Regions from separate parts of the Homo sapiens genome. Here region 2 is linked to region 1. Evidence: fine-mapped expression QTL. Tissue or cell type: NK cells. Region 1 holds a variant in brackets; the other region holds the start of a gene. All regions are shown on one strand. Distances are between the middles of the regions.

Region 1 (5,369 bases):
GCCCCTAGGCACGTGCCAGCGCTCTGCTGTGAGTGTTCCAGCCCCACAAGGCAGGGATCGGGTTCCCCGTTTCAGAGAAGAAAATGGGGTACGGTGCTTATGCTGCACGCCCAAGGCTCCAGTTCCCACAGGCTGAGCCGGGACTCGCCCAGAATCCAAGCCTCGGCACCCGCACTGGGCCTTTGCCTCTGGTACATGCAGCAGAGGCTCTGCAGCGGGGGCCTTCCTTCCATCTCCCTTCCTTGTCAATTCTTCCGGTTCTAACTTACTCAACTGCTCCCAGACAGTGGCCTTCATCTCTGAGTTTTGCCTTTATCCCAGTGTGCCCCTACCCAAGCCACCAGCTGTCATGAGGGAAGGCAGCCTCTGCCCCTACCGTCTGGGCTTCTGTTTCTGCGTGGATTGTGGGTGGATCGCGATGAATGGTAGCAGCACCCTGACTAAAACCTACTACTGAAGAGGCACCTCTGTCATCTGCCCGGCTCTGGAGGTGGCCTTACCTACTCACAGGTGAAGAATGAGGGCCTAAGCATTTGCCTGAAGCTTCGTCCGACATGAGACTTGAACCTGGTTGTTTCCTGATCTAAAATCCCAGGCCCCTCCTAGCACCCTCCTAACTCTTTGACTGGTGACAGGGAGCTCTGCAGAAAATTCTGACCCAGAGCAGGGGTTCCAGATGCCCTGGGAGGATCAGGTAACAGCAGATCACAGAGAAATGCCACATGAGGAGGTGCAGAGACCTGGAGCCTGTCCCCTGCACACCACAACCCTACCGGGGTCCTTTCTAACCTCCTGGGCAGCAGGCGCCAGCTGGGCCAGTCTGAACATCCTCTCAGCCTCAGGGGAAAGGGTGGCCTATGATGACCACAACTTTACAGATGAGGAAACCTGGGTCTGGAGACACAGGGCACGCTGCCCTAGGCCTCATCCCCTCACCCACAAAGCCCCATGTGCAGACCCCTTGGCTGGGAAGAGCCCTGCTGTGCAGAGATAGGCCACCTGCCAGCCTTCTAGAACTCCGCTTTGTAGCGTTTCCCCCAGGCCCCGAGGCGCTCCATGTGTGGATTCCCTTTGCACCTCCCCACCCCCACTGGCTGTCCAGGCTGTTTGCAATAATTACTTGGCAGGGATTTCTTATTATCTAGGACACAGAGAAATCCACTGTCCCTAACGCAATTAAGTTCACAAGGCAAAGGAGGGCCAGAGGGTGCTGAAAGCAGCTTTCTTTAGCAGGGCTCGCCACTCGTGCCAACAGGTGCCCCTTGACTTCCCCGGTCTACATGCCAGCAAGCCTAGGCCCGCCAACAGATAATATCTTCTGCAGGGCAGAATTCTGTATAAAGTGGGTCAGGCTTGGGTCTCAGGTGGCTTTGGTCCAGATATTCCAAAGGTGTGCAGGTGGCCCCACTGTCTGGGGTTAGAAGCCAGGCCGGGAAGTCAGGTGCCACCCTTCTGCATGTGGGAAAGTACCAAGCTGCTCTAGGCCTCAGCCTCCTCATCTGTAAGAGGAACCAAGATGGTGTAAGGAGACTTACATGTACTTCCTCATAATCACCTGGATCTGTGAGTGCTGGGGATGGGAAACTAAGGCTCAGAGAGGGTGAGGTAAATGCCGGAGGTCACACAGCTACAATGCAGCAGGGCTGGGATGTGAACAGGAGCAAAGGCAGGCCCACCCCACAGGGTATCTCATAGACTTTACAGGCTGACAGGCAGGCAGCGTGGTCTGAGGCTTAGAGACAAATCCCAGCTCTGCCCTCCGACCAGCTGCGGCCTTGGACAACCAATTTATCCATTCCGTGCCTCCATTTCTTCATCTGTACAACTGATGTGATGGTGGTGAGGATTAAATATGTGAGATCCCTTAGTGCAGTGCAAATGAGCACTCAACCAAAACACTGGCTAGAGCAACTGTCAAACGGGACATGAGTCAAATTCAGCAAGCAGGCACCACACAGCTGCAGGCTCCCACCCAAACACTAAGCCAGGTCCCTACCTGTCCAATGCACACGACCACGGCGTATCCCCCGGGGCCGACGGCTACGCACTTTGGCTGAACGTCCAGTTTCACAACTCCTTGTCCGCTGTTAGAGAGAAAGGAAGCACATTACTTCGACAATGCAGCAGCTCAGGGTAGGTATGCATACATATTTACTGTTAAACCACAGTTTTGCTCCTTAGAAGGCAATTCTATTGCCACCTATACTGGAGAGACTTGCTAAAATATGGGATGGTAGCGAAAAAACGATCCATGACTCTGGTGCAAAGAGATTATAAGTCATAATGGGGGCCCGGGGAGGGG[TG/T]GGGGGGGGGGAAGGAGGGGCGGGAGGCGGTGAAAGGCGTTGATTATGCTCCTATTTATCTGTGGTAAGCCCTCATTACACCCAGATGTGGCTTTTGTCCCCCTGTCTGTTGGCTAAAGACTGGAGTTTACTGAGCACAGACAGAATTGAGCTCTGCTCCCCAAAATGGATGGGTAACTTTTAAGAATCCGTTACCTTTAATGGGTGAAAATCATGTTATTTTTAGCCTTGGCCAATGCTATCAAAACTTGTTCTAGAAAGACTCATACACACAAACTTCTTGAAAACTGAGATAATCAAGGAAATTTCTGTGTCACTCGGCCAAGTGTGGCATCCCCAAAGGCTCTGCAGCAAGGTCACCAGGCCAAGGCTGGCTCTGTAAGGGCCTTGCCTTGGGTTATCTGGCCCAGGGAAGACCCTTTTATGGGACGTGTTAAGAGTGGGGTCACCACAGGGCAGTAGAAAGAGGACCAGGGCCCAGATGCCTGGGCTCTGGGGCCGCTTCTGCCACTCATCGGGAGGCCCAATTTACCTACAGATGCCCAGTCTGCCAGGCAGGCAGGGCCTGTGTTACCTACAAGGACGGCACACCTGCTAGGAGTTGCGTGCTGCACCCTGTGCCAGGCTCCCATCAACAGGCCCCAGGAGTCCCCATCTCCCAGGCAACACGACTTAGGCAGGACTACCGGGTGACAAAGGGGTCTACACAAGAAATGTAGGGCCAGAGGAGGGGTCAGACCTGGGCATGGGGACACTGGATGTGCAGTGGCCTCGTCAGGTCCTGGAACATTTCTCTTTCAAGTCCCTCCAACTGCATTTAGGACTTCAGATCACTTGCAAACTGCTACTCTCCTAGCTCCACTGACTGCCAATCAAAGGCCCAAGACCAAAAACAAACAAGACATTGTCTTTTAACCAGATCACTGTGTGCCCATCTCACCCTTGAGCAGAAGGGGAATGCTGTCTTGTACTCAGCACCTGCCCTGTGCCAGGCTCACCTAATCCACAACAGCCTGAGGCAGGCTCCACTGTACCCGCCTTTACTGATGAGGAAAGGGACACAGGGAGAGACCGCAGCAGGTTCCTGGAGAACAGGGCTGTGATCTGCTGCCCCTGCTTCCAGGGCAGAGTCCACACCTGGTCGTTGTCTGTGGGCAAGAGCATTACCCAGACCACCTGGATCTGTAACACAGTGCTGGGCTCAGGGCCCAACAACAGGAGAACAATGCTGGGGACGGGGTGGGAGAGATGAAAGGAGCAAGTGAGGCGTCCTCCAGAACAGTAACTGCTGGAGGGCACAAGCCCTCCGAGGGGAGCTGAGGCTCATCCGGAACCCCCGCAGACCCGAGTGCTCTCACCTGTAGTCCCGCAGCATGAGGCTGGTGTACCGCACGGTGTCGTCCATGCTGCAGCTGATGAGCTGCCCCGACTCATCCACGGTCATCCTGGACACCTGGTTCGTGTGGCCTTTCCCAGCGAAGGAGTCGTTCTCCCCCGTCTCTGAATCCCAGTAATGTAGGGTGGGGTTAAGGAAAAGCCCGGCTCCCAGGACTGCTGGGTGTTCTCAGGTGTGGCTTCAGTCCTAAGATTCTCCATTTACATCAAGAATGAGAATCTCGCCGCAAACGGACATAACCATTCCCCCTGGGAAGCCTGCAGTGTCCACTGTTGACACGTTCTTAGGAAGGGGTATCTGAAGTGTGGGTGCACCACACAGGGATTGGGATGAGGCAGAAAGGGAGCCGTGCTGAAGGCCTACTGGGGACCAGCAAGCTGGGGAGGCTCCGGCGTCTCCTCTGCTACTAGTTATCGGGTAGGCGCAACCCTCTAACCCCACATTTCTTTATGTTTTGGGGGCAGAGGGTGGCATGTCTGCCCTCCTCTCCCAGCCTGGGGGGACCTCCTTGGGTCCCGGACAGTCCCTTTGGGAGGTACAGCACATGCGGACCAGAGCTGTCCACACAAAAGGCAGTCTCCAACACAGCACGGTGCTCAGGGAGGGCAGCAGAACAACGCACAGCAGGTGCCATCATCAGCAACGTGTGTGGGCATCCCTGCCCAGGCACTCTGCAGATGGTGGCTCCAAGGTTCAAGACACACCCGTGAGCAGGGTGTCACCAGCCCCAGGCCATGCAGGAAAAACACAACAGAAGCCCCCATCATCAGGGAGAAACCAGGACTCATTTAAAGAAACCCAGACAAGGACTTATAAGGGGGACACAAACACCTCCAGGGAACATCACCGAAGGGCCACAAGGCACCTCGCAGGAGCTCCAGCCCTGGCTCTGTGGACCACAGGCTGCATGACTCTGGGGCGGGCACATCAGCTCTCTGGGCTCTGGTTTTCCTATTTTTAAAACAAGGGGACCCAACGTAAGGGTGTCCAGGTGCTTGTGAATTCTAGGAATCAAGAAACCCACCATGTGGAGTAGGGCCAAGGCTGGCGCCAGGTGCCATTGGCAGAGGTAGTGGCAGCCCAAGCTCAGGGCCGTTAAGCCACACTCTCAGGGTTGCACGACAAGAAGGGACTGATCAGGTCGGAGCCGCCCATGGCTTTTCCTCAGCATAAGCCCTGGAGTTGCCAAGGACAACTCCAGGGGACAGTTGCCTGTCCCCATGTACAGACAGGCCACCCCTAGAAGCCACACGGGTCAGAAGAGCGTGTGGCTGTGGCTGCAGCTGGAGCCACCTGGCTGGCCTGGCCTCTGGCATCATGGGAACAGGAAATTCCCCCCTAGAGCCAGCGGCTCCGGAGCCAGCTCTTTGAGTCAAAGGATATTAATGTGTCCGTCGTGGCTCCCAGAGTAAATGTAGGACTTGCCGCCGTTTTTATGCACCGTCAGACACTGGATCGATTTACTGTGACCCTGTGAAGGAGACACACTGGGCGGGTAAGCTGATGACACACTGCCCTGCCCTCTGCCACCCGCTTTCCACCAACGAAGCTTCTGGGTAATGGAGGGGGCAGACGCCCCTCAATCCATGGCAGTGCAGGTGCTCTGAGGCCCCAGTAGCCCCAGCTGCCCGAATGCACGGCCCACGAGCCCTAAGAAACCTTTCCAAAGC
Region 2 (5,369 bases), 60 kb before region 1:
TGCAAGTAGGGTTCCAGTCCAGGTCCGCGTGCGCAGGCCGGGCGCCCTCAGGTTTAGCGGCCACGCCCTTGCGTTCCTTCCGGGTTGCGTGAGGATTCCTGAAACGCAGTTTTCAGCAGCTGCTCTGGGCAGCTCCACACGATCCTTTCAGCGAAGTTGGCGAGTGTCCGACCCAGACAGAAAAAAGCAAAGCCAGACTCCAAGCGCTATCAGCCAGGCGTGATTCTAAGCACTTTTCTGCGCATTGTCTCTGAGTCCTTAGATCAGTGCTGTTATGTCCTGTATTACAGGTGAGGAAAGAGGGGCAGGGAGCGTGGCTGGTGCTGTCTAGGATGGGGACTGAAGTCCAGGTGGCCTGGCTGCAGTGCCCCTCTAGTCACCACTGCACTGTCCCCTGCTGACCCGTCACCTGAGTGCCGTTGTCCAAGGGCCTGAGACTGCCGACAGCCAGACAGATGTGCACACACGCTTACATGCACATACTGTTCCAGTCTGAGGCGTCAAACTACAGGGGCTGGTCCAAGCCTCAGGACAAGGACCTGCAGACGTAGAGATGCAAGGTTTGGCACAGAGAACAGGGCGCCTGCCTTGGTGTTGTCCTGCCCTGCAGCCCCATCTAAGGACAGCCACCACCAGTACAGGGCCATAGGGCAGAAACACCTGGATCCCTGGCAAAGGCTGACAAGCTGGCATGAGCCAGGGCAGGAGGGATGGCTGTCCTCAGCTGGTCAGGGAATACAGGCCAAGTGGACAGGGGCCAGGTGCTCCGGAAGGCACCTTCTTTGCCATCATTTGACATATTTGTGAGTGTGTGTGTGTGTGTGTGTGTGTGTGTGTGTGTTGTAGGCGCCAGGCCCTGACAAAGCTGTGGGGGTGCAACAGTGAAGAAGACATATGGATCCATGGTTCAGGGACCCATATCAGTCAAATCCCGTCTGGAAGGGAATGCGGGTCTCTTGATGGCCACTTACCTGCTCTGCCAGTCTCGTTTGTCTCCTCTAGTGCCACCAGCCACGAGATAGAGCTTTGGGGCTTTGAGCCAAGTGATATCAGCTTTACCTCCAGGGCCAGTCCCCTCAGCTGTAGGAGTCTGAGCAAGTGACTTGACTTTTCTGGGGCTCAGCTTGCCCACCTGTGAAATGGGATCTTAATAGCAGCACTGGCCACATATGTTGTTGAGGAGCCTGCTGCAGAGGAGGTGCTCCGTAGAGGCTGCTGATCACATGCGGGGGCAAGAGGGAACATTTATAAGCCTTGGGGATGGGTGCTGCCAATTGAAATGTAGTACCAGAATATTTTTCTGCAGTGAGAGGAGCTTGAGCTGAATGGGGATCCCTGATGGAACAGAATCACATTTCAGATGAAACGCCTGTTCTCTATCACTCTTTCTCTTTAAACCTATCCTCTGAGTCTCGGCACAGATACCACTTCTTCTGAGCCCCTGGGCTGTGCTGGGCATCGTTTCTGTGCTCTGTGCCTTCTTTGCTCCCAGCCCCGATGACCTTAGAGGACACAAACTCCTCCCTGGTCTGCACCCCATCAGATTGGGAGCACCTGGTGTGAAGTGCCCCTGCCAGAGGCTGGTGAAGGGCAGGTGGGGGCCATCTTCTCCTGCCTCAGCTGTGCTCCCCGGAGCCCCCTGCCTGTGTGGCCCGCCTGTGCCCTCCACCCGCTCCCCACTCACTGCACGGGCAGAGGGTGCCCACTGACCGACGGTGCTGCTGCCCGTGCCATGCCCTGGGGAGGGTGAGAAGAGGGACACCACCATGCAAGTGCGGGGCAGGGCAGCCTGCCACCATAGCCTCATTCCATGTACACACCCAGTCTACCAGAGACGCTGTTGGCCCAGTCAGCTGGGGCTTGGAGAGAGCATGCCAAAGTCACACAGATGGAGAAGTGCAACTCAAACTGAGGCCTCCCTGCCTCAAAGCCCCAGATCCCCCAGCTACACGCTGCCAGGCTGGGGCTGAGCACTGTCACACGGCTGCCACCCAGGCCTGCCTTCCCCACAGCCCGCCAGCCATGCAGAAAAGCTGTCCGTAGTTACCTTTCTTCTCCTTCCACCTGGCACCCCACTCCTCAGGTGGTCACACTCCAGCAGTGCCCTCCCTGGCCCTGGAGGCCCGGCGTGGCTGGTGTCATCTGTGAGGGGAACTAGGCCCAGTTCCTTGGAATTCCTATTTTGTTTCCTTGCCATGGGTCTCAGTGACCCAGCTGATGGCTCAGTCCAGGGACCCCAGACTCTGCCAAGGCATTTCCGTGAGTGAGGAGGCAGAGTCCACTGGAAGGAGGGCGGGAGTTCCTGACAGGAAGTGTGGCAATTTGATCATGCCTGAACAGGCAACGGGGCAACATTTTTTTCTCTGCTCCTAAGTTATTACAGCAATGAAACAGTCCAAAAAGGGAAATCTGTCCTCTCCAGGATTGCCACCCAGGGGGTGGAATTTTTTTTTTTTTTCTTAGCATCTTTTTATTTTTCTCTGGTAACAAAGCCTGGAGCAGGGTGACTGCCATTAACCTAGGATACCTCCCTAATGCTTGGAACAGAATGGAGAGGTGGCTGACTTTGACTCAGAAGCCTGCATACAGCTCTGCCCCTGACTCTTCCACTTTTTTTTTTTTTTTTTGACCGAATCTTGCTCTGTTGCCCGGGCTGGAGTGCACTGATGCAATCTCTGCTCACTGCAACCTCCGCACCTGGGTTCAAGCAATTCTCCTGCCTCAGCCTCCCAAGTAGCTGGAACTATAGGCGTGTGCCACCACGCCTGGCTGATTTTTGTATTTTTAGTAGAGACTGTGTTTCACCATGTTGGCCAGGCTGGTCTTGACCTCCTTACCTCAGGTGATCTGCCCACCTCAGCCTCCCAAAGTGCTGGAATTAGAGGCGTAAGCCACCATGTCTGGCCAACTCCTCCACTTTTTAACTGTGTGTCCTCAGGCAAGTCACTTTATTCTCTGAGCTGCAACTTCTACCACTGCAAAATGGAATATTGACCCCACTCTGACTGTCCTGCAGACTTATTCTGAAGCTCAAATAGAAAACAGCCAGCCCCAAGTGGCGTGCTGTAAATGAGTGTGGGCTCTCCTGTAGCCTAGAACAAAGGCGAGGGCTGTGGGTTTGGAAGAAAAAGAATTTGCCTCTTAGTCGTTACTCTGTCCTGCTCATTCAGCACTGGCTGAGGGGACATGTCCTGTATTCCAGCCCCAGGCTGGCTCAAGGACAGTACTGAGAAGGCAAGGGCCTCATGCACACCAGGAGGTTGTGGGAATCAGTTCATCACATGGCCATGTTGCCTCAGACGCCAGAGAAGCACCTTCAATTTTGGCTAGAACAGTTTGCTCCCAGAAGCAGAGAGCAGTGCAGAGTCTGGGCCAGAGCCAGGGACAGGCTTGGTGAATGCAGAACGTCCAGGAGGCAAGGTAGGGCTCAGTCCACAAAAGAGAGATCGAAAAGTTAGCAAAGTACGTTTAGTAAAAAGCACACAATAAAATAAAAGGTGTGGAGTACGGCAGACATTCCAGGAACCTGGAATGTGAAACGCACGTGGAAACGTCCGGCCCTGACATGCACGGTGGTGGGAATGTGGCTGCTCAAAGCAAGTGGGGAATCAAGACTTCCAAAGAGGAAAACCACCCTCAGGAGTTAGGTTGGGGATGTATTGAGCACGCCAGTCATTCAGTGCAATCGTCCTTCTGTGTGTTAATCAGTCAGGCATGCCCCGGGAGAAGTGGCTGTTTCTTGAACTGGATTTCAGCTATGCAGCCTGGTTTCCTCATTGAGTGGTGGGCCTAGAGCAGCATTCTGATGTGCAAATCCTTAATTATAACATGACCTAAAAAGGCGGAGGATTCCCCAGGACAGTGTGGAGGAGGCACCACATCAATCTCAGCTGGATCTTGGAGACCCCGCTGGAAGAGGCGGCTTCTGAGCGGACAGAGAAGGATACGGGGTGAGAGGACAAGGAGCCAAGGCCTGCAGGCACAGATGCCTGCAGTGTGTGGGAGGAAGTGAAATTGTCAGTGAAGCATGGTTGGGGCCTGAAGTACAGGAGATGGGCAGAGGAGGGGCAGGGACAGCTGCATCCCTGTGCATGGAGGGCCCCTCTGCCCCTATGCTGTCCTGATAGGGACTGCATTTTCATCATCTCATTTACCCCTCCTCATCCCATTGCTGTGACTCCCCTCTCTATACCCTCCCTGTTTCCTCATCTGTAACAGTGGGGACCTCACCAGATTTTGCTAAAGCTCAAATTGGATCAGGTGTCCCCTCATCCCGTTAAAAATTGCTTCGTAGTCCTCTGTTGGGTTTGAAAACTCAAAAGGAACCAGAAATTAGGCAGTGGACATGAATGTGCAGCTACAGCTGGACAGAAAGTAAAAGAGCGGAGATGGGTCCCTCCCGGATCCAGATGGTAGCTAACCAGGGTTCCTGGTAGCCACAGCACTTGCCTCACCTTCAGCTCCTACTACATGTGCACAGCTCATGTTACATGTGCACAGGGCTTTCCCAAGTGTGTTCACCTTCATGATATCGTTTAGTCCTCAGAGGAACTATCAGACCTACATTTCGGGGCAACTGAAGTTCAGGGGGAGCATGGAGGAGCCTGCCTCCAAAGCGAGGGCTGGTTCCCCATTCCACAGGGCCATCGGCCCTGCACTGCAGGCAACTGCTAAGGAAGCGACTCCTATCACAGATGAAGTCATAAGACAAACATCCCCAGATGTTCTGGGCTGGGGCACGTTCTGCCTGCTCTGACACTCACTGGTTCCTTCATTCAGTCATTACTTGCCTGTCTTTATGAAGCTCCTACTCATTCAGGTTCTCCTGACCTTGCTCAGGCCCTCACTTCTGACTGCCCTGAACTGTGCTCACCCTTCAGCACTTAACTCTCTCGCCACCTCCTCCCAGCAGCCTCCCCAACCTCTCGCTGCCTCTGTGCTCCATGTGTGCCTTCCCCTCTGCACGTGTGCTGCTGCTCACGTGTGCCTTCCCCTCTGCACGGGAGCTCACTGTGGGCAGGGATGGTGTGCGTCTCAATGGGCTGATTGTGTCCCCTCAGATTCACATGTTGAAGTCCTCACCCCAAGTACCTGACAATGTGACTGTATTTGGAGATAGGGTTTTTGAAGAGGTAATTAAGGTTAAATGAAGTCATATGCATGGGGCTGTATTCCAGTATGCCTGGTGTCCTTATAGGAAGAGGAAATGAGGACACAGACACACACAGAGGGATGACCACGTGAGGACGCAGGGAGAAGGCAGCCACTTCTGCCAAGAAGGGAGGCTTCAGAAGGAACTAACCTGCTGACACTCTGAGCTTGGACTTCTGGTTTCTAAGACTGTGAGACAATACATTTCTGTTGTTTAA

Alleles and levels. Alleles are on the strand shown, and positions count from the first base shown. SD is a standard deviation of normalised expression in the study named.
In carriers of allele TG in region 1, the expression in NK cells of the gene that starts at base 2,265 in region 2 tends to be lower than with T alone (large effect, 1.1 SD a copy in Schmiedel 2018).

What was found. PIP is the estimated chance that this variant, and not a neighbour inherited with it, causes the effect.
Region 2: SLC2A9 starts here. The variant in region 1 is fine-mapped to the expression of SLC2A9 in NK cells (Schmiedel 2018, PIP 0.95).

The regions. Positions count from the first base shown.
Region 1 is chr4:10,079,361-10,084,729 of GRCh38, forward strand. It overlaps WDR1 (WD repeat domain 1), which reads right to left. Exons shown (of 15, transcript NM_017491.5): 9 at 5,083-5,170; 10 at 3,662-3,818; 11 at 1,997-2,084. Among named protein-coding and RNA genes, the nearest start is that of MIR3138, 3.4 kb to the left of the region's middle. The variant TG/T (reference allele first, on the strand shown) is at 2,303.
Region 2 is chr4:10,019,233-10,024,601 of GRCh38, forward strand. It overlaps SLC2A9 (solute carrier family 2 member 9), which reads right to left and starts at 2,265. Exons shown (of 12, transcript NM_020041.3): 1 at 2,048-2,265. The coding sequence starts at 2,197. RefSeq lists an enhancer at 1,747-2,246.